Regions from separate parts of the Homo sapiens genome. Here region 1 is linked to region 2. The links come from fine-mapping of genetic effects on gene expression. Tissue or cell type: monocytes after Pam3CSK4. Region 2 holds a variant in brackets; the other region holds the start of a gene. All regions are shown on one strand. Distances are from middle to middle.

Region 1 (2,987 bases), 44 kb before region 2:
ACAGGTGCCTGCCACCACACCTGGCTAATTTTTGTTTTTTGGTAGAGATGGGGTTTCACCATGTTGGCCAGGCTGGTCTCGAACTCCTGACCTCAGGTGATCTGCCCGCCTCGGCCTCCCAAAATGCTGGGATTACAGGCATAAGCCACCGCACCCGGCCATTTTTAAAAGAAAAATTTAGACTAGGTTATGAACTGTGTTTTGTTAGGGAGAAAAAAACCTGTGTAAGGCTAATACATGTATATATTTTACATATACATATATACATATGTATATATCAAACCTGTGTTATATATATATATAAAAACTGTGTAATATATGTATATATAAACCTGTGTAAGGCTAATATATGTACATATAAAACTTTACATATATAAATATATTTATATATGATTATATAAATTAATATATTTATAATAAATATATATACACACGCACACACACACACATATATATATATGGCCTATGTGAGGACTATTCTTTGAAGTCTAAAAGGCATAGCTTTGTGAAAATTATAAAGGGTCTGAGGCACTTGCTCCAGAAATACTTCCCAAACTGACCTACTTCTGTTTTCCAGCAACTCATATCTGAGTGTTGATTTTTTTTTCCTTTTAAACAAAGCTCCGTCTGCTCTCATATACCTCACTTCAGCTGTCATCTAGCTCCAGATAAGATGAATGTTGCTCCAATGCTGGTCATTTTCCAGGACTCTATGATATTAAATGAACCTATCTAGCCTAGTGATCCTCAAGTATATGCCTGTGTGCGTGTGTGCATGTGTCTGTCTGTCTGTAGTGTGGGTTTGCTTGTGAGTGGTAGAGATTATCATCTGGTGGTGACATCTCCATTCGGTTAGCTTGTGGGAGTGGTGGTACAGACTTTTTTTTTTCCTCCTCCACAGGGGACATAGGTTGAGAAACTCTGGCCTGGCAATTTAATGCTCAGTGCAGTTTGATGGTGATAAAACTCCTGAAGAAGGCAAGAGTGAGGCCTGAGTCTTGGAGAGTAAGTTGTTGCCAGTGCCTGACAGGCCTTCGGTTTAATTTGAAGCTGGAGGCCACATTGATAAAGTCGGCCCCGAAAGTCATTGCCTGTCTGATCGAATGCCGGTTTACCCAGCGGAGGCTGGGGGCCACGTGAGCTCACTTTCTTTGGTTTTCTACCCAGCAGCCCAGAATATTACCTTCCTGAAACCCTTTTTCATCAGCTAGCGATTCCTGAAAAGGATCTTCAAGATTTTTATGTTTCTCAGAACCTAGCAATAACTTGGAAAAGTTTTCCAAGTAACATTGATGTGTGGGTGTTCGGGGGCAGACAAGTTAAGGAGCAAGGCACCCTTTTTGAGGACCCGTGGCATGCAAATGACTTATCAGAATGCACATAGTATGACAGTAAACACCGTTTCTTACAGAGGTGAAATAACTCTCACTCCACAGAGACGGAAGTGACCCGAAGCTAGCAGTCCCCTGTATTTGCTTGTGTGACACCGAACATGTCAGATCAGGGTGTAGGAAACTATGCCTAGCGCAGAGGAGGGTAAAGGAAGTAGGGAGTCTGGTGGCTGCGGCGCTCCAGCTTCCAGCCACCGGCAGAGGAACCCTCTACGGCTTGAAAGGGAAACGCAGCCACTCAGCCGCTTCGACTGCGGCGGCGAAACCAAAACAGGGTGGGGCGGGGTGGGTGGTGCTCTCTAGTGGAAGGCGCCCGCTGGGTGAGGTCGTTTTGTCTGGCGGGGGGCTAGGACGGTCAGCCCGGGAGGAGGAAAGGCGCGTCCCGCCTCCAGCTGCAGGGCCAGGCGGCGGCGCCCGCTGGCGTCGCTTTCCCTCTCCCGGTCGGCCTCGGTGCAGGCCAGGCTGGGCGGGCCGGGCGGCGCTTGGGGGCCGGGCTCGGAGTCCCCACTTTTCCTCCCTCCTTCCCTCCTCTCGGGGCCGTCCCGAGCGGCCGGGCCAATGGGCGCGGAGAGGAAGGGAGCGGGAAGCGGGGCGCCTTGGGCCCGGCCCTCCTACGGCGCCCGTGGCTGCAGCGCCAGCGCCAAAGCCAAGTTTGCGCCTCGAGAGTTTGCGCCTCGAGAGTTTGCGCCGGTTCGCATTCCCCGGCCTCCCGTTCGCTCCCCCGCGAACCAGGCGGCCGTGCGCCTCTCGGGGCAACCACCCAAGAGCACCCGGGCGGGAGGACGCCGAGCAGGGGGTGTTGCGGGCTGGGACAGGGGCAGCCACCTCCCGAAGATGCAGGATGGCAGCAGAGCCGCAGCCGTCCAGCCTTTCCTACCGCACCACGGGCTCCACCTACCTGCACCCGCTCAGCGAGCTCCTGGGCATCCCGCTGGACCAGGTAACTGCAGGCCGGGAGCGCAGCGACCCCAGCTCCCCAGCGATCGCGTGCACGGGGCGGGCGAAAGTGTTAGCCACCGTCCCTCCGCCTCCATGGCGTATTTTACAGCCACACACTAGACAGTTGGTTTTTGTGTGTGTGTGTGTGTGTGTGTGTGTGTGTGTGTTTTCCCTTCTTGAGTTGGTGTTAGTGTTTTTCTCCTTGTAAGTGTGAAAAAATATTGGTACAGCCTGCGCGGCAAGTTCTACTGAACTTTTTTTTCTTTAAGTTTGGGATTGCCTCGTTTCCTGTAATCAAGTTCTGAAGTAGTCTGATACATGAAACCAGTGTTTCTTTCATCAGTGTCCTCAAGTCGTTATTGTTTTTAATTTAGATGACCCTACTTAAAAAACAAGCGCGATGAATCTGTAGACGGTAGTCTATAGATTTTGAATGCAGGACCTGGGTTTTAGACTTCTGAGGCGAGGCTTGTTCAGGGGTGACAGTTATTTTGTACCGTGTGTGATGCGGGACACACAAGGACACTTTGGTTTTCCCAGGGTTCGGTTGGCTCATATGCCTGGGGCTGGAGCTTCTGAGTAGGACAGGTTAGGGGGAGGAGAGGGGCCCCAGTGAAGTTATTTGAACTGTCCAGGAATTATCTACAACCATTAAAA
Region 2 (2,500 bases):
CTGTGGGGTTAAATTTTAAAGATACAAATCCCTCCCCCTTCTTTCCTCCTATAATTATCAAGAGATGGGAGGATAGGAGAATTAATAGGCACCACAGGAAAACGTGTTTATTATTAAGTTTTTAAAAACCTATAATTGGTAACTTGTTTCCCGGTTTTGAAAACTGTTGTCTAGTTTGCTGTTGGGTGGGATAAGGTTTTTTCTTTTTCTTTACTTTTCTTTTTTTTTTTAACGGAGAATTGTAGTTACTTTGACTCTTGGTCCACATCAGAGTTTCCTTTTTAATATACACACATATTTTGGAGAAGGTGATTACATAATAGAAGCTCAAAATAGTTCAGTTCCTAGGGACCAGGCAGAATCACAGATATTCCTATTTCGTCAGTCCCACATTGCACAATGGTCACCAAACTTTGGGTCCCTGCACTCTTGGAGTTGTGACAATTGTGCTGTATCCCAGCCTGCCCCATAAGATCTCTGTTTTGGAAAAGCTAAATGGCATTGTGTTTTATTTTCAAATTAAACCAAATTAAAATTAATTTTGTTTTGAGACTTTTGAGAACTTCACAACCCACTCTGAGATAATTGGCCACACCCTGGGGTGTTGCATAAGAAAATATAGCCCTGGTTCTGCATTTTCCATTGTCCCCAGAGATCTTACTCATGGCAGCATCTTAAATAGCAAGTAGTATTATTGGTATACAGGAGAGCGTATATGGCTATGGGGTGATAACGTTTTTATCACTTTGGACTGATAAAGTTTTTACCTAAGTCCACCAGGAAAATAACTGTTCAAGACAGTTTTTGTTGTTGTTGTTTAGGAGACAACATAGGTTGTTGGGAAAAGATGTTACTTGGGAATCTGTTCCATCGTTTTCTTCTCTCTCTTTAAATGACCTTGTTTAACCTCTTTATTTTACCCATTGGGAAAACCCCGATGATATTTGTACTTACTGCCTCCTTAGTGATATGAAACAACCAAATACACTCCCCTCTCCTCTCCTGTCCTCTCCTCTTCCTTCCTCCCCTCCCCTCCCCCCTTTTCCCTTCCCTTCCCTTCCCCTCCTCTCCCCTCCCTCCCTTCCTTCCTCCCTCCCTCCCTTCCTTTTCCTTCCCTTCTCTCTCCTCCCCTCCTCTCCTCTCTTCTTCTTTCTCTCCTTCTCTCTCTCTTTCTCTCTTTCCCTCTCCTCTCCTCTCTTCTCTTCTCTTCTCTTCTCTTCTCTTCTCTTCTCTTCTCTCTTTCTCTCCCTCTCTCTCTTTCTCTCTCTCTCTTTCTCTTTCTCTGTTTCCCTCTCCTCTCCTCTCCTCTTCTCTCCTCTCCTCTCCTCTCCTCTCTCTCTCTCTCT[G/C]TCTCTGTCTCTGTCTCTGTCTCTGTCTTTCTTGAGTCTGACTCTGTGGCCCAGGCTGGAGGGCAGTGGGGTGATCTCAGCTCACTGCAACCTCCATCTCCCAGGCTCAAGCCATTCTCCTGCCTCAGCCTCCTGAGTAGCTGGGACTACAGGCACGTGCCATTATGCCTGGCTATTTCAGAGTTACTTTTTAATAAGAAACATGACACTATAGTATCAGGGTTTAGTTGATTCATGCTGCTTGGGTTTATATTTTTTGATTAATTTTTACTATTTCAAATGTGTATGTCTAAGAATTTTAAAATAAATAATGAAGAGATTAAAAAATAAGTAATGAATGTGGCCTCTTTAAAGCACAATTAACAGCCCAAATCTCATTTGGGAAAGAAGATGGGCTGATTGAGTTTTTAGATTTAGGACACACCCGTTCTTTGACTATGTTGGAACTTATTATGCATCTGGTAGGCTAGGTAGGGTTTCTGGGGAGGTCTTTTCATCTTATGTGCTTCCTACTGGAGGATGTGCAGGGAAATTCATCAACTCTAATTAGTGACTTTGAGCTTTTCTCCTTGCCACTGTGTTGGGTAAAGAGTTTGATGGAACAAAAGAGATACTAATAATATCTAGCATGCATCGTACAGTTCGTGTGGTGACAGGCACTGTGCTAATCACTTGACATGTATTAACTCACTTAATTCTGTGAGAGTAGTTGCATGGTTCCTATTTTATAGAAGAAGAATTGGAGACAGGCCAAATAATTTGGCTAAGGTTGTACAACTAGGGGATTAGGGTGGGACTTTATCTCAAGCTGTCTAACTTCATAGCTTGTTCTTTTAACTTTATACCAATTCTCAATTACCACTGATTAAAATCTGTGCATCCAATTCATCTGGGTAACTCCACCCTTTTTATAACAAACACTTAGAAACGTTAGTTCAGTGGGTAATCAACTCATTGGCCAAAGCCAGTAATAAATGAAAAGGCATTCAACCAGCAGCAAGGAAAATGCAAATTAAAATTAATGCACTACCAGTTCTCCACAATCTCACTGAAAAGATTTAACAGATTAACAGCCCCCTATGCTGGCAAGGGTGAGGAGAGCATACCCTTATATGTTACTGGGGGAAGTAAAACATTGCTTTAACTTTTGGAGA

The links.
Region 1: it holds the start of MBOAT1, and the variant in region 2 is fine-mapped to the expression of MBOAT1 in monocytes after Pam3CSK4 (Quach 2016, PIP 0.95).

Annotation. Positions count from the first base shown.
Region 1 is chr6:20,211,480-20,214,466 of GRCh38, reverse strand. It overlaps MBOAT1 (membrane bound glycerophospholipid O-acyltransferase 1), which reads left to right and starts at 1,998. Exons shown (of 13, transcript NM_001080480.3): 1 at 1,998-2,331. The coding sequence starts at 2,233. RefSeq lists an enhancer at 970-1,470 and a silencer at 1,653-2,192.
Region 2 is chr6:20,167,338-20,169,837 of GRCh38, reverse strand. The region is part of intron 1 of MBOAT1 (membrane bound glycerophospholipid O-acyltransferase 1); the gene reads left to right. Among named protein-coding and RNA genes, the nearest start is that of MBOAT1, 44 kb to the left of the region's middle. The variant G/C (reference allele first, on the strand shown) is at 1,347.